Homo sapiens: one gene and its partners. The protein of the gene in region 3 purifies or fractionates together with the protein of the main gene of each other region. This does not show direct contact. Each region holds a gene or a part of one and is shown on either strand. Other genes may lie near its edges. The genes, in order: TUBA8, ACADSB and SLC67A2.

Evidence for each region.
Region 1: the proteins of SLC67A2 (region 3) and TUBA8 purify together in Homo sapiens (affinity purification with mass spectrometry; one large-scale study listed by BioGRID and IntAct). This does not show direct contact.
Region 2: the proteins of SLC67A2 (region 3) and ACADSB purify together in Homo sapiens (affinity purification with mass spectrometry; one large-scale study listed by BioGRID and IntAct). This does not show direct contact.

The regions. Positions count from the first base shown.
Region 1 is NC_000022.11:18,127,730-18,130,102, reverse strand, and holds part of TUBA8 (tubulin alpha-8 chain), read right to left. Parts: intron 1-2,373.
Region 2 is NC_000010.11:123,050,405-123,054,065, reverse strand, and holds part of ACADSB (short/branched chain specific acyl-CoA dehydrogenase, mitochondrial isoform 1 precursor), read right to left. Parts: intron 3,018-3,661; coding exon 2,880-3,017; intron 1,006-2,879; coding exon 906-1,005; intron 372-905; coding exon 301-371; 3' UTR 1-300. UniProt on the Homo sapiens protein: Short and branched chain specific acyl-CoA dehydrogenase that catalyzes the removal of one hydrogen from C-2 and C-3 of the fatty acyl-CoA thioester, resulting in the formation of trans-2-enoyl-CoA.
Region 3 is NC_000002.12:102,713,969-102,717,009, reverse strand, and holds the end of SLC67A2 (major facilitator superfamily domain-containing protein 9), read left to right. Parts: 3' UTR 1-2,380; downstream 2,381-3,041.

The DNA of each region.
Region 1 (2,373 bases), on a different chromosome or scaffold from region 3:
AGGCCCCGGGATGGTGTTGGCGTTAACCAGGCTCTAGGTTTTTGGGAATTGGGGCTTCTTAGAAGAAAAGCAGGGTCTCCAATCCAAGAAGGTTGTTGAAGGTCTTGCCAAGTTCTGGCAGCATGGCAGGTCTCCCAGGCTCAGCCCAGACCCGTCTTACAGTGGTGCTGCTATCCTGGAAATCTCTCTTCTTCCCAACACACGTCCCAAACCAAAGCCAACCCCAGGAACCATGGGAAACTGGGACAAGTCTAATGTGGCAAACCGTGACATTACTTATGAGAACTATAGTGATGTCCTCAGCCACCTCTCCCACTGAGACCACCACATTTTAATCGCCAGTCTCTTAAATCCATAGCTTTAAAATGCACATCCTCCTGAGGGGCTGGTGTGGGAATGGCAGCCAGCTGTGTGGCAACATGGGTAGCCAGGCAGCCACTGGACCCACAGCAGCCGTCATTCCTCTTAGGCACAGGTGGCATCTTGGAGGTGGAGGTGATACTGGGAGAGGGGCAAAGTGGGGAAGGGAAAGGCAATGTATATGAATTTGGCCACATCACATACATTGCTAGAACTGAGCCGACTGCCATAAACCTTGTGCCTGGGCCAACCTGTTCTCCTCTAAGTGCTAACATCTCTTGACCTGAGTCAAGTGGGGACAAGTACTGTTGGAGAGAATGCAAGAAGATGAAGTTTAGCAGCATCCTCTCCAGGGAACATACTTTTCTTAGCTTATGCTAATGCTACCATAATGATCCTTCAGGACATAACTCCAGAGCTTCTGCTTTAAGGAGAGAGAATGAGGGGACATTTCCGCTTTGTTAATTTCCCCATCACCCACCATGTCTCTCATTCATTCTCTTTTTTCCCCATTCATTCTCCTACTAGCTGGTTGTTTGTTTCCATTTGAAAAAGAAAAAAGAATTTCATTTTTTGGAAGACCTTGACTGGTTTTGCCAGGATGATTAGAACTGTCACATAAAAAATAGGCATAGTCTTGGGGGGAAATTATATATGTAGCTAGAAGGATAGCAGTGAAAAGGAATGCTACACTCCTCACTCAGCAGAACAGCCAGGTCAAAGCCTCAGACCCATGCAGGGCAGCTATGAGGCCAGCACGCAGCTGGTGCCTCACACTTGTAACTCCCGCCAAGAAAACTGAGGCATGCTCATCTCTTCACCTCCAGCAACTGAGACAAACCCTGACACACAATAGGTACCAGTAAAACCTCTGAATGATTGAAAGCATGACTAGGGGCCAGGCTTGGTGGCTCACGCCTGTAATCCCAATGCTTTGAGAGGCTGAGGCAGGTGGATCACCTGAGGTCAGGAGTTCGAGACCAGCCTGGCCAACATGGTGAAACCCCATCTCTACTAAAAATACAAAAATTAGCCAGGCGTGGTGGTGCATGCCTGTAATCCCAGCTACCTGGGAGGCTAAGGCAGGAGAATCACTTGAACCCGGGAGGCAAAGTTTGCAGTGAGCCAAGATTGCACCACTGCACTCCAGCCCGGGCAACAGAGCAAGACTCCATCTCAGGGGAAAAATACAATAAAAAATAAAAAAAGAAATCCTGACTACAGGGCAGTAGTTAATGTGAATGTGGTAGCTGTTATGATGGCAGAATCTGACAAAAGACCATGGGTGGAGTGGCTGAGCTGTTCATGTGCACAGCCAGGCTGCTTGCCTGCCGGTCCAGCTCAGAGGGGTGACTTCTACCATTCAGCATTCCTGGTCCTGGGGCCCCAGGGTCTACCCTCGCTATTTTGTATCTCCCCACTGACTCTCTGAGCCTGGCATTTTCCAGACTGCGGGCACTTGGTTACCACCAGCCACACGGCTTGCTGGTTTTTGCTTACTCCTGGTTAATGGCAATGGAAAATAGCAATCATAGAACAACTATAAAAGTATCTTATTACTCCAAATTGATTAAGATGTGCAGGATAGATATTTTAAGTTTTCAAAATAAATTGGGAGAACACAGCTTTTTGTTAGAGAGAGGCATCATACTCCTCTGGCAACTGGAATAATTTGGTTAACTCTAAAATTAAAATGGCCACAAAATCATGCTGTACAAAGAAGTGTAAAATATCCATTAAAACTAACTTTAGGTTGGAGGCCAGGCGCGGTGGCTCCTGCCTGTAATCCCAGCCGAGACGGGCAGATCACAAGGTTAGGAGATCAAGACCATCCTGGCTAACACGGTGAAACCCCGTCTCTACTAAAAATACAAAAAATTAGCCGGGTGTGGTAGCAGGCGCCTGTAGTCCCAGTTACTCGGGAGGCTGAGGCAGGAGAATGGCGTGAACCCAGGAGGTGGAGCTTGCAGTGAGCCTAGATCGCGCCACTGCACTCCAGCCTTGGTGACAGAG
Region 2 (3,661 bases), on a different chromosome or scaffold from region 3:
GACAGAGTAAGACAGAGTAAAAATATATATATGTATGCGTATACAGCTTTAAAAACAGTTTTGGAAAAAAATACAGGTGCTTATTTCCCAAGTTTAAAAGTGGATCTCCTGTGCCTAAGTTAAACAGCCTGAAAAGAGAAAACCAAAAAGGCCAACACCAGGACCCTGACTAAGGGCTTCATTAAAATATTCGAATGCTGTGGAAGTTTATTCCCACGCAAGGCACTTACTCCCAACAAGACACAACCGTTTAAAATTTTACAGCAGTGACACCAGGGAGGGGTCCCACTCCTATAGACGTCAGTATTCTGCATCGATATGCTTTGCAATGGTGTTCAACTGGATGTTGGAAGCTCCTTCATATATCGTACCTTAAGCAAAAGGAAGCAGAAGGAACAATGAGGAGTTGGCGCATGGTTAAGACAAGAAATAGCTCTATAAACATCACCTCTGCGCTTGCTATAAAACAGTTACTAGTCACATCACTTCATGTCCCCTGAATATGGTACTATTTCACAGTAATTTTGACTAAGAGATGACAATTTTCCATTTGGTTTCTCGATGTCCAGGATCAGTATTAAACTGACTAAAGGTGTAAACAAAAGTTGAAGATTTTGATTCTTCAACAATTGATGCATAAGCTCAGACTGTTATTTGTGGCAGTTTTACTAAAAAGCCTGTTGAGGCATTTAAAAAGGCAATTTGATATTTTTTAAAAATATAGAACAATTTTTTTTGAAGGACGAGGTAAGAAAAAAATCCAGCCACATAAATAGAGCCACCAAACATATACTGAAGAAATTAAAATTGCTTTTACCTAGGAAAAAAACGACAAATAAAACAGCCAAAATACCTACAGAGGCAAATAAAACAAAATAAAATGTAAAAAAAAAAAATCTATTTACCAATCTTTGCATCTCGGAAGTATTTCTCCACAGGGTAATCTTTGGTGTAGCCTACTCCCCCCATCCACTCGATACATTTACTCGTTGTTTGTCCTGCAATCTACCAAAAGCAAGTGCAAATCACACACTGAAACCACATAACTTATACATGATAAACACTTCTGGGTAACATTTTCAGCAACATGGATTTACTGTTAGTGGCACTGGAAGGACTAAAGTTATCTTCTAAACTAGCATTGTCTCTTCAGTCCCATTCTCCATACCATTTCTGTAAAACATCCTATTAATTCACAGAATCCCCATTTTCTTAAGAAATTAGAGCATTGTTCACATGAATCTGCATGCTGAGAGATATCATTTATTCAGGAAATGTTTACTGGGGGCCTAACGGACGAGCTAAGGGACATTTCAAGCTGAGGACCAACACGTCGAAATCCTCCAAGGGGAGAATGAGCTCTTCAACTTCCAGCCCCTGAGACAGCCAGTGGGCTGGGATCGGGGTGAAATGTGAAAAGAGAATGGAGGAGCGAGAGACCCTGCAGAATGGCCCCTCAAGGACGTCCACATCCTAGCCCTCAGAGCTGTGAATATGCTGCCTTCCATGGCAATAGGGACTCTGCAGATGTGGGTAAGGACACGAGATGGAGAGATTACCCTGAATTATCTGGGTGGCTGTGATATAATCACAGGGATCCTTATAAGGAAAAGGAGGAGGCAGGAGAGTTAGTCATGGAAGGTGACGTGACCATGGAGACAGGAAGCAGAGTCAGAGAGAGATCTGAACATGCCACATTGTTGGCTTTGAAGATGGAGGAAGGGGCTACGAGTCAAGGAATGTGAGCAGCCCCTAGAAGCTGGAAACAACTGTCTGCCAGAACCACAGAAAGGCAGCCCCTGTATTCCAGTGAGACCCATTTCAGATTTCTGACCTCTAGAAGTGACAGAAAATGAAACTGCGTTGTTTTAGGTCCCCGACTTTTTGGTAATTTGTTATAGCAGCAATTGGAATCTAGTACAGATAGAGCTCCATTTGTTGTGAGAAGCCACTGAAGGGTTAAAGCTGGAAGGTGACATGGCCTCACTGCCACTTTGAAAAAGGAGAGAGGCTGGATGGGAGGAAGCACCAGGGACCAGGAGGGCAGTGAGGTGACTGAAGTACAGAGGTGGCAGTGGAGAGGGAGACAAACACACCATTTAAGGAATCTTTTAGGGGTAGAATCATAGGAAATGATGCTGGACTCAATGTGGGGGGTGAGGGAAAGCAGGGTGCCAAGATGACGCTCAGGTTCTGATGGTGAAGCAGAAGTTGGACATGTTAGTCTGGAATTCAGAAAGAAGTTGAGGTAGGATATTTAATTTATGGGCTGGAGAGGTTAAATGAGAATTTAAAGCCATGGAATGAATAAGATACTGCTGAGGCTACGAAACAGCTGCCCAGTGATTTGGCTAAATTCTCTAGCCTCAGTCTAATGTGTTAGCTCTAGAAAGCAAATGTATGAGTAGAAAGTTTTAGACAATCTTTTCTTGGTGTTTTAAATCTGATTTGTTCACATGATGGACCCATCATCTTCCACGGCATTCACTTTGCCCGAACTTGACACCATAGGCATGACACCCTCATTCAGAGGAGGCTCAGCCATGGATTTGAGATGGGTGGTCTATCTGAGCTGGGCTACTCACGAAACATGGAGACCTCACAGAACTGAAGGTTTTCCTATGGCAGTTTGAGATGGGTGGTCTAGCTGAGCTGGGCTACTCAACGAAACATTGAGACCTCACAGAATTCAAGTGTTTTCCTATGGCAGTTTTCCTTTTTTGCTTTTCTATTATAAGAAATAAAAGTCCATGTTATCTTAACTTGAAAAACAACCAAAGTACAATCAACATTCCCAAGAGAAAATGTTAATAAGTATATATCTGAAAAAAAAAAGGCTGAATTACTTTTTCCTTTTTTTTTTTTTTTTTTTTTTTTACCTCTGATGCATAGTATTTGGCCATTGACGCTTCTTTTATGAATGGCTTTCCAGCTTCTAAAAGCCTAGCAGCATTGTATGTTAGTAATCTTGCAGCTTCCAGCTGGGTGGCCACGTGAGCCACTTGGTGTTGGAGGCCCTGTAACAGTCAGGCCCAAGTTAGAGAATTATGATTTCAAAAAAGCAAGCACCTCAACCTCAAAGTCCTGCCTAGATACACAACACTGACAGACTCAAAATACACCCCAAAGGAAATTTACATTCACGTCTTTTAAATACTTTAAAATGAGTAATCTAAAATGAAATGTGACACTATAAGTATTGTTAAATCCTCTTTTCCTAGAAAAACTTCAAAGTTCATGTAAGTCTTCATGATTTTCAAGATTTAAATAGTAAAGTATAACAAAGTTAGGTTTAAAAACTTGACTGTTATATTTAATAATTATTTCAACTCTCTTTTGATCAAAATTGAGCTTAAATGAAATCCTGGCACAGCAAAACTTTGAATATATTCTTTATTTGCTTGAGTTAAGAAAATTTTGATTTTTCATATGGCTTCCAGGCATTAAAAAATGTTAGCTACAAAGTAATGAAGAATATTTGAAGCACCAATTACTACCACCCTGAAATTTTAGAGGGTGATTAGGTCCATACTAAATGTTTGCCAATGAAAGAAACAACAGTTAACTTAGTGAGCCAGAATACAAACATTAACATTTATAAACAATTTCCTGCAAATAACAGGCACAGATGTTTACTACAAACTGAAATGTTTCTCATGCC
Region 3 (3,041 bases):
TGCAAACACAAGCATTCTGTTGATCAACGGAAATATTTTGATGTGCCATTTCTTGTCTAAACAAGTTTCATATACAGCACCGAGGGGGCCACGAGAGGCAGAGGCCCAGACAGAAGGTGAACATAGCCTTGCAGGGAGACATATGCCAGGCAGGATGACCATTGGGATTGCATCAAGTATTAATCAGTTACTTAAGGGCTTCCTGTCAGACAGTTGAAGTTCACATTCCTTTTACTTTTCTTAATTAGTCCACTAGGATGGTATGCCTGTTTTCAACTTAACACATGCATACTTGTAAATATTTTAGTATGCTACAGTAATTTGTCATATCTTTAATATTTATTGTTTGTAAAGCAGTAAACATTTCTGTATTTTAGAAGTCATGGAGTAAAATCAAATATTTATGATAAATAATTGGAAGTATGTTTTAGTTTGAAGATTGTCCTTTTTCCTATCTTGCTGCAAGGAAAAATGGACTTCTGATTAGGTTTTACAATTGTGAACTTTTATGTAAATGTTAAGTGCTTTCGAGGAGACCAAACTATTATTAATATATAAAATGGCCTTGCCCTTAAGGAGCAAATTAAATCTCATGGAGATTAGACTCAAAAGGCAATAAATAATCGAGGGTTTATGCAATGAAATAGAATTTCAGAAGAGTTTGGATCTCAAAGATTGTCCTTCACTCTCAGAAACAGGCAAGTTTCTTAAAAGCCCTTATAGTCGTGTTTTTATTTTAAAAATCGTAGCACTTTATTTTTGAAGTTTAAAAAGCCCATAAACTTAATGAGTCTTTATAATCAGACACATGGAAATATAGAAAACCAAAGACTGATCTTAGAATATAGAGTAGAGAGACATGTTTGTTATTCTCCACTAGTGACTTTAGTATTTTGTTATGTGATGTTTTTTAGGTGCACCTTTTCTCATGACTCCTTTTACTTTATCTAATGTCTTCCTCTTTAAAGTGTGACCCAGAGACCAGTAGCATCAGCATCACCTGAGACCTGTGAACACTGAAGCTCCAGCTCAGACATGTTGGGGACCATTTTAATAAGATACCTAGCTGATTTTTTGCACAGCAAACTTTGAAAACCCCTGGTCTAAGGGGTAGTATTTGTATCACTTATGGAATATAATCTCAGGGAAATTAAATCTGCTCAATTGACATTTGTGGTGTTTCATTTTTTAAATTCTCTTGAGTAACTTCTGTAGCCCTTTCCAGTGTGTCAGGTTGAGCCACATGAAGTTGCTATTTTTGTAAGTCAAAAATATCTTCATAGGGTGCAACTCACTATTCTATGGAATCTTATTTTAGGAGTATTGAACCTTCCTGAAATGTCTTTGAAGGAAGTGTCACCCTTTCCAACACTCTGCCAGCCATAACTGCTTGGGAACAGGTCTCCAGGATTTGGGTTCCATAGAGCAGAAGGTAGGCCTCTGCCCTCATGTCTAGAGGGATGAATAACATTCTGAAAAGGTACAGGGTGTGTCTAGTCACAGGAGTCACCTGCAAGGCTCCAAACTCAGGCTGGATGGCCCCTTGGGGAGTGAATTCTGCAAGAGTTGCACCTGGGGCCAACAGAAGGAGCTGGAATCACTGATTCTGTATCCTGGCTACATGCCTTAGACCACAGGAACCAGACTCTGAAGCACCACAGATGTTTCTGTGAACATCTGGAGTTGGGAATCACTGAGTTAGATCAAGAATGGATTCGGCTGCCATGCTCGGGTTGAGATTGTATTGACGGATGAAGGGGAATGACGGAAGAATTCCTGCGGTAAAGTGCTGTGAAGACACTCCTGTTTTAGAAAGAGCTCTCTAGCCGCAGCAAGGAGGATTAACTGGAGGCCCAAGGAGTAGTCTGGACTTTGGGGCAGTAACTTTAGGGGGGCCCTGAGGGAGAGCTGGTCGCGAGGACAGGGACAGCAGGCAGAGGTTGTGGCCCACAGGGCAATCGCAGGAGAGGTTGTGAATAATTCCCAGGTGATGAGTGTGCAGCTTTGAGGAATTTCAAAGGGTTGCTTGGCGTCTTTTCCTGAAGACACTTCTATAAGGTATTTAGAAATCTATCAGGAGTGAGAATCAGTCCAGTCAGAAAATTTTAGGCATTTGGGCAACTGCATTCAGAAAACAGCTATTTATTTGGAATGCATAATAAAAGCCATGAGACTGAATCTCCATGCCTCTTTGCCCCCTAGTAGCCTTCAAGAAGTCTCTAAAACAGGGTTACCACAGATTTAGCCAGGATGATGTGTAGCAGCTTTTCTTGGAACAGGTTGATGGATTAAAATAACTTTTTTTCAGCTCTAATGTTTTTTTCTTGAATTTGCCAGTCACATGATAATTTTCTTCAAAAATAAAACTTTATAATTGTAATGAGGAACTGTCATTTATTCTTATAAGTTGTATTTTTAGAAGTCACTGATGTGTCTTGCTACATATTTCAATTCAGGATCCAGAAGTGCTTTGAAAAATGTCATCTCCAGTATGCTAGAACACATCTTAATATTAAAAACAAGGCTTTGGCTTTTAAAACCATTATGCAGATACCAAATATATATGTAATCTGACATTTATACTGAAGGCCAGTAAGTAGAGGACAGTTGATCCTTGAACAACACAGGGGTTAGGAGTGCCAAGCCCCCAAAACGGTAGAAAATTTGAGTGTAACTTTTGACTCTCTAAAAATTTACTACTAATAGCTTACTGTTGACATGAAGCCCTACCAACAATATTAATAGTCGACTGACATGTATTTTGTGTGTTACATATATACTGTATTTTTACAATGAAGTAAGCTAGAGAAAAAATGTTAAGAAAAAGAAAAATAATATTATTAAGTGGAAATGGAATCATAAGGGTCTTCATCCTTGCCACCTTCATTTTGAGTAGGCTGAGGGGGAGGAGGAGAAGAAGGGATTGATCTTGCTGTCTTAGGGGTGGCAGAGATGGAAGAAAATCCCCGTTTAAGTGGACCTGTATAGTTCAACTCTGTGTTGCTGAAGGGTCAACTGTACTTTTAAGGTAACATCTCACA